Regions from separate parts of the Homo sapiens genome. Here region 2 is linked to region 1. Evidence: fine-mapped QTL for protein levels in blood plasma. A gene starts in region 1. The other region holds a variant in brackets. All regions are shown on one strand. Distances are from middle to middle. Region 1 holds the start of GALNT2 (polypeptide N-acetylgalactosaminyltransferase 2). Region 2 overlaps GALNT2 (polypeptide N-acetylgalactosaminyltransferase 2).

Region 1 (5,365 bases):
AGGATGTGCAGAAACTGGCTAAATATGGAATAAAAGCCCTGACTTGAACAGTATGAGGCAAGAGAAAAAATATAGGTCCACTTATCTCTAAAAAAACTATAGCTAGCTTTTAAATTCTGCCTTTCTGTGCATGGCCCGCTATCTTTTTTTATGTCCATACTTTACAAGCCAAACAAACCACATTTTTTTTTTGGTATGAGAATGAAATAAATTTAGAGACACTTCTAGTGTCTAAATCCATGGAAACAATTGGGGAAGAAAGAAGACTACACGATTTTCCTATACATCAGGCATTCGTGACAGCAGGGCTCTATTTACCTCCTTCAGAAACCATCTTAAGGCTTCTCTTTAACCCTGGGTCCACCACACGAAGTTAATGAGTCTTCCACTGCAATTTCAAAAGCTATTGCATTTACACACCTCTTCCTCAACCGACAAATCACTAAAGCATCCTAAGGGGTAGCATTAAATTTTATGGTTCGTTGACAGAAAGAATAGAATCCCAAATCACCAATCCATGTGTAATTAATTGTTCATTTCCCCCACTTTTTCTACCTGGTCTCCGTACCTGTCTATATTGCCACCAGGAATTCTTTAAAAAAAACAAAACAAAACAAAACAAAACAAAAAAAAACAAACTAAGAATCACACACTTCAGGAGTGTCTGAAGACTTCTGCATGGAAGACCCCTCACACCATCCAGGAACTGAAGCCCACCAGAGTGAGGAATCAGCCTCCGGGAGGCGAACGAGCACGCTTGCTCTTTCTAATCACGTGTACTAATGAAAGTGGCAGACTAAGGAAAGAGAAACGCCAAGGGTGGCTTATGTGTTTGGTTTTCTTTGCATGAAAGGCAGAAAGCTTTGCCAGGTCTCACCAGCACACCAGGCTATGCAGAGTGGCCAAGGCACAGTTTACCGGGAAGCAAAGTTTTAAAAATCATTCCAGTTTTACACGATTATATCTCTGAATGGACTGCACGGCTTTTGCTGCCTGCATGCTCTTTGCTGTTCAAGAATAAACCAAGTCTTCGCGTACATATACTACCTATACCATTTTTTACAAAAACAACGCTAAGAGTACAATGTCAGCTCAGAAGCTAGGCCGATTCAGCACGTGGAAAGAGGGCTTTATTTCTGCCCTTCTAGATAAAACAAATCCACGTAATTTACCAGAAACCACATAAGGCACCCATTCCACCTAACATCTTCGGCTATGAATGAATGAATGAAGCAAAGAAAAAACCTCTGAAGCAGCCAAACCCCGGCGTGGACATTTAGGGGTCTGACTTCAGAACTGAAGTCTGTTCATCTAGTTAGTTCCCTCTGGCTTGTTTCAGGATACCACTCTCTTGTTCCAACCCAACCACCCGTAGTCCATCTCCATTAACTCAGAATTTTCTGGGTTTGCGGTGACACTAAATGTCACAGTAACGAGGGTTACAGGAATTCGGAAAAGATAACGCTGCTTTCAAAGCCGAGGAGCCAGTAAAACACTACAAACGTCCCCTGCCGGCATGCTCCAGCACACAGCCCGACGCCCTGCTCTCCCGGCCGGCGCTCGGCCGCAGGACCGCGCTGTCCCGGCTCCTCTCGGCGCTCACCATCCTCCCGAATGCCCAGGGCCCGGCCGTCCGGAGCGGCGGCACGAGGACGCGGAACCGCAGAGCGGCTCACACGGTCCCCACAGCCAGATCACTCGGCCCCTGGAGCATGTTAAAAACACAGCCACAGAAGAGGGATTCTCCCTGAAGCGGGGAGTGGGGATGGAAAATGCAAGCGCAGGAGGCCACGTCCGGCTCGCGCGGGAGGGCCGGGGGCCGGGTTGGGCAGAGGGTAACGCTGGGGCCGCAAGGGAACGGCCGGGACTGGCCTCGCTCGGGGCGCAGGGGCGCACTGGCCCCTGGCTCGCACGGGCCCTGGGGCTTTACTTGGCACGGGAGCGGCCGCCCCTGCCCCCCAAAGGTAAAGGGCAAAGAAGGTGGCAGAAACACGGAACCCACGCCCCGCGGAGTGACAGGGGGAAAGGGACGAGGATTTGCAGCCGCTGGTATCAAAGGGCTGAAAAGAAACTTGGACTCCTCTCTCCTGCTGTACATGACGCGTTGGAAAAGCGGTCGCCTCTCTCTCCTCTCCTCCCCACCCCCTTTGTGTTTCCCAACACCCCCATCCCTAAACTTCCAACCGCAGGGGATGGGGCTCCCGGCGGCCGGACAAGACTCGAATTACGACGAGCAGAGAGAGGGGCGACGTCCACGAGAGGGGGCAGAGAAAGGCTGCGGGGGCCGCCCTTTCGGAGCCCGGCGTGCGCAGAGGGGCCGGGTGCACCCCTGCCCTGGGCACTCGGCGCGGAGGCCCGGGACGAGGGCGGGCGACGCGAGCGGAGGTCCGGGCGGAGGAGCGCAGGGGCGGCGCGGAGAGGGCAGGGGACAGGGGCGCAGGGTGGGGGGTGGGCGCAGGGGCCCGGCCGCGGCAGGGCGCTCCACTCACCTTCCTGCCGGCGCCGCCGCCCGCGCCCCCGGCCAGCGCAGAGCCGCCCCCCGAGTACATGTAGTAGGCGATGCCCAGCACCCACAGGAAGGCGAAGCAGAGCAGCATCCGCGAGCGCCGCCGCATTCTCCCAACTCGGCCGCCGGCGGGGCCGCCGCTGCTCGCGAGTGCTGCCTGGGCCGGCCGCGGGCGCGGTGGGGGCCGGGGGAGGAGCGGAGGAAGGGGAAGGGCGCGGCGGCGGCTCCTCCTCCCGCGCGGTGCTACTGCTCGGCGGCGGCGCGCACTCGGCGCCCGAGCTCCGCCCCGGGCCGGCGGCGCCGCGCGGCACCAGAGCAGGAAGCAGCGGCCTCGGAGGCGGCGAGGGGGGTCAGGGAGCAAAGGGCGACCAATCGGCGGCGGCTGCGGGGGCCGGGGCGCGGGCCGCGGGAGGGGACTGCCGCGTCTCCATGGCTGCAGCACGCCGGGCTCCGCCGTGAGGGCCTGGGCGCCGCCCCGCCCCCGGCCGCCCGCCCCTCAGCGTGCTCCCCCCGCCGGCCGCCCCCTCCCCCGTGAGTGACAGGTGGCTGCCCCGGGACCCGACTGGAGCGCGCGCACACGTGGGCAAAGAGCCTTGCTCACGCACACGGGGCCTCTCGATTACGGGGGCGGTAGTGGCCTCGGTGCTTCCTGCCCAGACTGTCACCTCTTCAGCCTTGGTCTTTGGGGCCACCTCAGACCCTTAACGGGCTTGCTCTTATTGGCCAACTGACCTGAGTTTTTGGTGCAAACCGCCCGCTTGAACCCGACTTTGCTGCTGCTTGCTGCAGTTTTCTCACTAATCTTGCAGCAAAACATTCCTGACCCGCTGGTATCGATTTTATTTATCTATATAGGCAGATGTGGAGGTTTTGAGTTGGTAGGAACTGAGAAGGTAATTTTCAAAAGAACATTTTTCTGTGGGTGACAGAGCTATCAATGGTAGAGTTGTTCTTTTCAATAAACACAAAATGAGGAAGAAGGAAAGCAATAATATATTGTTTAAAATCTTTTCTTTCTCATTCGTTGCGTTCTTTAAAAAGCACATTAAGCATCTTTAACGATACAAGAAAACGATCTGTCTTGTAACATAATCTATGTAACCTTGGTGATGCCCTTGCAACACGCAAAGCTTCCAGTGTTCCTAAGAAAGACAGAAATTTTACTTAGAACTTGATATATTAAATGTTTTCAGGAGCTTCTCGGTCAGAGGATAATGGCAGCTGCCTGATATAAGTCCGTACCCATATCCTCAACGAAACAAAAACAAGCCTTCAGCATTACTTAGAGAGAATGCCATGAACTGAACATTAAATTACTTAAGTAGAAGAAAGAAAAGATACCAAATTCCAACTGAGCTCCCTCCACTATTGCCAAGGACTTAAGTGAAGTACAGGGTTGTCACCTCTTTATAAATAGAAAGTCCAACACCAAGAACTAAAAACTGAACAGAGGTCAGGTGCCTTATTGATCAAGGGAAGAGATTTGAAAGAAAATGGGACAAGAGGTGAGAGGCTTGAAGGAGCCTTGTTTCTGGGAAAAAGTCAGATAAATACGAAAAGAAGATAATGTCCTTCAGAGGCCTGACAATGAAGGGAAAGAAGGAAGTCAGAAGGGAAAATTACAAATCCTGCAGAAATGAAAGAGAAGACAGCCAGTCCCCTCCCCAAACACCAACATTATCTATTAAAAACTGCATTTCAGTACACAGATAAAAGAAAACACTCTTGAACCGGGAACCCTGCCTCAAAATGCCTAGTAACAGAAAAACATCAAATCAACTGCATTTAAAGATTCTGCAAAAAGAAAACAGAAATCACATTTCTGATGATAAAAAATAAATCATAACATTTTCGCTGATGAAAACCCCCACAATAAAAACCATGAAGCATAAGAAAATTGTAATACCACATGTCAAACTGAACAAAGTGTCACGTATTTGTATACACATACACACACACACACATATCTAGGATAAGAAATTTCAAGAACTGAAGACAGACTAGACAAAAATTAGGAAGAAATGCAACAAGGGTTGAGCAAATTCAAGAAGGAAATTGAAAGTAATGACAAAAACTATCCCAGAAACAAAGAATAATTACAAGGTGTCCAAGGGAAAATATATTCAAATGAAAATATGTAAAAGGACACTGAAGAATGGCAAGAAAACAATCAAGAAATTGAAAATAATATAAAGATAGAAGTAAAAAGGTTCAGAGAGAAGAGGTTAAAATAAAAGCCAGGAAAGGAAGACCAAAATACATGTTAAGTGGAGTCCCTAAAGTACAAACATTAAACAATAAAACCTAATTAATATTAAAACTATAACCCCAGAAAATAATCCAGGAATAAGGGAAAATTTAAATGTACATGTCAAAAGTGACTTCCATGTACCTTGGGAAATGATCTGGAATTATCAACTCCTAAATATATTTTAGTAAAACGATTAGATTTTAAAGGCAAAAAAGATCAAATTGCTTATAGAGATAAAAATTTATGCTGGCATCAGACTTCTGAACAGCAACATGCAAAGCCAGGCAACAGTGGAGCAGCATTAACAAGGAACAAAAGTGCCAGGCAGGCTGGGCATAGTGGCTCATGCCTGTAATCCCAGCACTTTGGGAGGCCAGAGTGGGTGGATCACCTGAGGTCAGGAGTTCAAGACCAGCCTGGCCAAAGTGGTGAAACCCCATCACTAAAAAAAATATGAAACTTAGCCGGCAGGTGCCTGTAATCGCAGCTACTCGAGAGGCTGAGGTGGAAGAATCATTTGAACCCGGGAGGCAGAGGTTGCAGTGAGCTGAGATCATGCCATTGCACTCCAGCCTGGGTGACAGAGCGAGACTCCATGACACACACAC
Region 2 (5,365 bases), 180 kb before region 1:
AATAACCAGGAGGAGGATACTGAATGTTCCCAACACAAAAACATGCTACATGTTTGAGATGATGGATATGCTAATTTCCTTGATCTGATCACCATACATTATATGTATTAAAAACATCACTATGTATCCCATGAATATGCACAATTATTATCTGTCAATTAACAAATTAAAAGAAGTAAAAATATACACATATAGTATCTACAGAGTGTGCAGTCACTGTCACCAATGCAGATTGATCAGAAATAGGGTGGGTCCATCACAGACCATACAGTGAGTTGATGGCAAATCCTGCAGGCAGTCAACCTAGTTATGGCAACAGGTGCCCAGAATGCCAGGCACATGGCAGGAAATACAACACAGGGGTCAGAACACCATGAGTTTCTACTTGGGTCCAGCAAACTAATGCCTCACTCACTAGGAATGGGTGATCCATGCAGCTGTTACGGGGCTTTAATAAGCAACTCTCTTGTACTAATAGAAAATGTATGGTTACAATCACATAAGCATAAGCAGTGAAAGTTTCCGACTTTACTTTTTACAGTTCCCAACACAACCTAAGAAGTTGTCGGCTGGGCGCAGTGGCTCATGCCTGTAATCCCAACACTTTGGGAGGCCGAGGCAGGCGGATCACCTGAGGTTGGGAGTTTGAGACCAGCCTGACCAACATGGAGAAACCCTGTCTCTACTAAAAATACAAAAAATTAGCCGGGCACGGTGGCACATGCCTGTAATCCCAGTTACTTGGGAGGCTGAGGCAGGAGAATCACTTGAACCCGGGAGGCGAACGTTGCGGTGAGCCAAGAATGTGCCACTGGACTCCAGCCTGGTGACAGAGCGAGACTCCATCTCAAAAAAAAAAAAAAAAAAAAAAGAAGTTGTCTCTATTTCAGAAAATAAAATTTAAATATCCATTTGCCTCACCACAAGATTTAGAATTAGGGGCTAGGAAATCCCCTTGGCTTCTCTATGGGGAATCTGTTAAGCCAACAAGGGATCCTTCCAGGGCTTTTGTGGGAGATTTTCAAGGCTAAGTATAACTACAGTATCTTCAGCGTTGATTTCATTTGAACCCTATAACTTTGAGGATAATTACTCAGTAAAACTCAATGGCTTTTTAATTAGGCAGTTAGTGTTTACATCTTGGTTCTGAGACCCTGGGCAAGGTGTCATGACCTCTGCAGACCACACTCCGTTAAGAAAGCACAAACAGATGATTCCCTGGAAGTACTTAGCATCATCCTTGCATGACAGGGATGTAGAGAAACACAGATGATGCCCCCAAGGAGCCTTACCCCCATTGTTAGAGTTAAGGGTTAGGTTCTTGGTCCTCCATTTTAATTGCTTAAATGACATAAGGACTTACATGATTAGGAAAATGGGAAGCTCTGGTCATTCCAGCGGGGCACACGTTGAGGAGGTGGTTTTGGATCTTACTCGGGCCTCTCTGCACCATACACCTCTCCCAATGCACACCCACAGAGGCCCCTCAGGTTGGCAATGGCTAGTAGTGTGCACGGCCCCCAGAAGCAGAAGCTAGAGCAGTGCTAAGGAGAAAGGCTCACGGCATGGCCTTCTCACGTGAAGCTCTTGAGCCCTCCAAACCTCACTGGGAGTCCAAGTCCTTGGCATAACCCAGGAGAGCCCCTCACGGAGGGACAGATGCCCCAGCCTTCCTGGGCAGAGATGTGCTCCTGCTTGCAGGGTTCATCTTCACCCCAACCTGAACCGCTCAGACCCTAGAACCTTCTAGCACAGCTACATAATAAATACAAACACCAAACCACAATAAAGCAGCTCCTTACAACAAATCTACCCCCCAGTCTCTGGGTGAATGCCTCCTTAGATATGTAAATCAACACTCTTCCTACACGATGACACAAAATGCTGGCTGATGTCTCATTTCAGCTAATAGTATGCAAACTTCTGAAAACCACACTGTTTTTGAGAAATGGCCACCTACACGATACGCTGCCCTACTGGGCGACCCTGGCCTGCTGGATTTCCACTAAACCATTAGGGGATACCCATGGAACAGGGTGACAGAACTCTCTTTAGAGGGTTAACAATTCTGAAGCCTTTTGTACTCAAGTGACTTCAATCCAAGCTTTCCCTAGAGGTTAATGTATCATTTTTTTAAAACAACCCAAAAGGAGTTTGACTCACGGTCTCTCCACCCGTGCAGTATAGTAATCGAGCCTAAAGAAGCTTTCAACATCAAACCAAGGCAGAGAAATCCTCAAAGATGAGATGGTATCACTGACTTCAACATCATAAAACAATGGAAAAATAATAGGCTAGGCTAGTCTTTTCTTTTAAAGTAACAAAAACTTTCAAAGTCTCAAAACTATTAAAAATGAGTGGCCTCATTTTCCCCTTTCCTTCTCCCCTGTCCTCCAGGGTACACTCACCCAAGGACGAATGTAAGTTAACAACACTCAGCAGCCCAGGAGAATTCGCTCAGAATGTCAAGCATTTGAAACAAAAGGCTTTAATTGAAACAAGCAAAAAAGATCTCCCCCACTCCAAACCCTAAACAAACAAAACACATCTTTTCATCTTTTATGCAGTAAATATAAGGCTACCAATATAGACCACAATGTGCAAAATTTTGCTGTGCCTAAACCTGGGTAAAAATAATTTGCATGGGGTATTTAAAAACAAAAAAACAAACAAACAGAAAAACAAATGAGAACCATTCGCAAAGGTAGTCGAGAAGGGATTAAGTGCCAAGGCCTCCCTGCCCCATCGGATTTTCATGATTTCAATTCAATCAATCCCACCAGCCTCGCCGGGGTTCATTTTCCACTCTCCACCACTCAGCATGAATCTGAGCTCCTGGACTGTTTCCCTCTGTTTTTGCAAGCCTGCAACATTCCAAACACTTGGGTTCAGACGCCTTGAAAGAGTTTGCATTTCCCTTCAAAGACTTTATCCGTATTCTGGCATCCTCCACTCTAACCTAGGGAGGCACATTTTAATGCCCAACTCATGAGACTTTCAAGAGCAAAAGGGGTGTTACATATGTGTTTGCAAGGATCGATTAAGCCCAGTGAATGGTCACTCTGAAGCCTTTTAAATTTTTTTTCCAATTGGCACCCTGCCTTTTGCAGAGCTGAGGCACTTCTCTGTCCTGAGATTTGAGGCTTGTACATACCTAGGTTCTCTCCTCCCCACACATCCATCATCATGTCGTACTTCCCCAGTTCTTCAAAATAGAACTTA[T/G]CCATCACAAACAGCCCACCAGCAATCATGGGGGTTCTAAAGAGGCAGAAAGAAGAGGGGGGAGGGAGGAGAGGGCAAAGTCAAGGTTAGATTGCCAGCACCCTTGCGCCAAGGCCAAGCCTTGATTCCCTAACAATAAGCTGATCTTCAGAACAGCCACACTGCCACTGTTTTCTGCTCAGTGCCCAGCATGCCACTCTCTCTGCTTCACCACTGCTGCCTTCAAATGCCTCCCCCACTGTCCCTGCCTGGATGTTCCCACAGTGCCAGGGGCTGGACTGAGCCTCCCCTATGTGGGAGCGACTGCTGGGGCTGGATCACTACTCACTGACATGCTGCCATAGGCAAAGAACTCGGCCTTTCTGTGTGTCAGTTTCCTTATAGGGTAGCTACGAGGATTGCAAAAAATCATGGGCATAAAGCCCTGAGCACGCTTAGGAAATGCTCCACAGCACCAGCTCTCATTATCACTATCATAGATGAGACTCCACCTCCTACAAGGGAACCCACCATGCTCCTCACTTCATCATCCCAGGAAGGGGTTGACAACAGATGTACACTGAGCTCCCTACTTTGTTCCCAGAAGCGATGCTGTGCGAATTCAGTGTAAAGTGCTGGGAAGGTCTATGGCACACTGCAGATGTTGGCTAAATGTCAGCAAATATATTTCAGCGCTAAGTACTCTGTGAATGCTATCTCACTTAACCGTGTGCCAACTTGGAAGAGGTGGCCCCCTTCTCTCCCCAGCTAGAGAAGGCATCCTGACTCTCAACCAGAAAGCCCACCGCCCGGCCTGGGAATCTTAAAAGCATGGGCTTCATGAGCATGGGCTCCTTCCTCTGCAGGAGAGCAAAGGCCTGCTGGGCAGTAGCAGCAGTAAGCCTCCTGCTGCCCACCAAGCCCCTTTTCCTGGGCCTGGGGTCAGCTCGGAGATCCTGCTCTGCTACAGAAACGCTCTACATTATCAACATACAGGAATGCACAGACCTAGCAGATAGGCCTTATAAACCTATGTGAGACTTCAACTGTGGAAAAGAAATCTCCAAGGATTTTATTCTATGACCTGGTGGAAGGTGCTCATCTTTGAGCTGAGACGAGGGGAAACCGGAGGGCAGAAGGTGAACAGCCCCCACTGGGTCTCCAGGCGGTGCGGGCCCAGCAAAGAAGCTGGAACCTGGGGTCTCATCTGGGAGGGGCACCCTGAAGGATGCTGGCACTTACTTTATAGGGGCGACTGGGTTCCCCTGCCGGGACCTTCTCTGCTCAGGCGTCATGTAATCCCACTTGAATACCAAGTTCCAATCAAAACCTGCCAGCCAGGAAAAGAAACAGGGTGTTGACAAGAGACTGGCCACTTCCTCCCGACACCCCCATTCCTCACAGCTTAAAAATATTCGATGTTTGGACAGAACTCAATGAAAACCAAAACAAAGCCAAAAAAGAAGGTGTGGAGGAGAGAGAAGGGGACTGGGGGCGTGGGTGTAGCTGAAGAGAGAGACCGGCAGTGAGGGTGAATGTTGAAATCTTCTCCCTGCCCCTCCCTAAAGAAAATGTGAGTCAGGCTTTTCTAATATTGAAATGCATAGGAAAAAATGAAATATGGGGAGAGAACTGGGGTCTGTGTGGTGATAACCAGGGCATGTCCAAGGGCTGTAAGGATGTGAGGAAAAAGAGCATCCAACATGAAAATCAAGCCGTGGTACCTCCAACACTGCCCCAGGGGAAGGCAATGCTGGGGAGGGAACGAGGCTTTGTCAGTTCCCTGGGCCAGCAAACTTCAGACTGTATTTGCAGCAAGAATGGAGTGGGAACATGCTGGGAATATGAAAACTTTAAGGGAAAATGAGCCAGCGGAAGTTGCCAAGCTGGGCAAATAAGCTTCAATTTCAGATATATTTGGCACCTGTTGCATTTCATTTTTGGAATCCACAGACCCCTGAGGATAGAAGAGCCTAGACCCTGTACCCGGACTTGGTTGTGGGCATCTGCAGGGCCTCAGGTCTCGCTCTTGCTCCCAGGGTCACACACATAGTGCCTCTTGGAGGCCAGCAGGCTCCACCTGCGGAAGCTGTCCTGGTGCATCAGGAGGCCACTTCTTGGCAAACACATGGCTCATGGTGCTGCATTTCCAATTCCAAGGGTC

Evidence for each region. PIP is the posterior inclusion probability: the model's chance that the variant is causal. Protein levels are from antibody-based Olink assays in UK Biobank. Linkage for the fine-mapping came from a reference panel and not from the study's own genotypes, which makes the PIPs less certain.
Region 2: its variant is fine-mapped to the plasma level of the GALNT2 protein (UK Biobank, PIP above 0.99). The variant lies in the coding sequence of GALNT2. If it changes the protein, the assay may bind it differently, which can mimic a change of level.

What each region holds. Positions count from the first base shown.
Region 1 is chr1:230,064,531-230,069,895 of GRCh38, reverse strand. GALNT2 (polypeptide N-acetylgalactosaminyltransferase 2) reads right to left here and starts at 2,658. Exons shown (of 16, transcript NM_004481.5): 1 at 2,490-2,658. The coding sequence starts at 2,615. RefSeq lists enhancers at 849-928, 3,283-3,442 and silencers at 1,843-1,902, 2,343-3,152.
Region 2 is chr1:230,248,350-230,253,714 of GRCh38, reverse strand. GALNT2 (polypeptide N-acetylgalactosaminyltransferase 2) reads right to left here. Exons shown (of 16, transcript NM_004481.5): 9 at 4,444-4,531; 10 at 3,155-3,258. Among named protein-coding and RNA genes, the nearest start is that of PGBD5, 180 kb to the left of the region's middle. RefSeq lists enhancers at 1,050-1,710, 1,711-2,372. The variant T/G (reference allele first, on the strand shown) is at 3,223.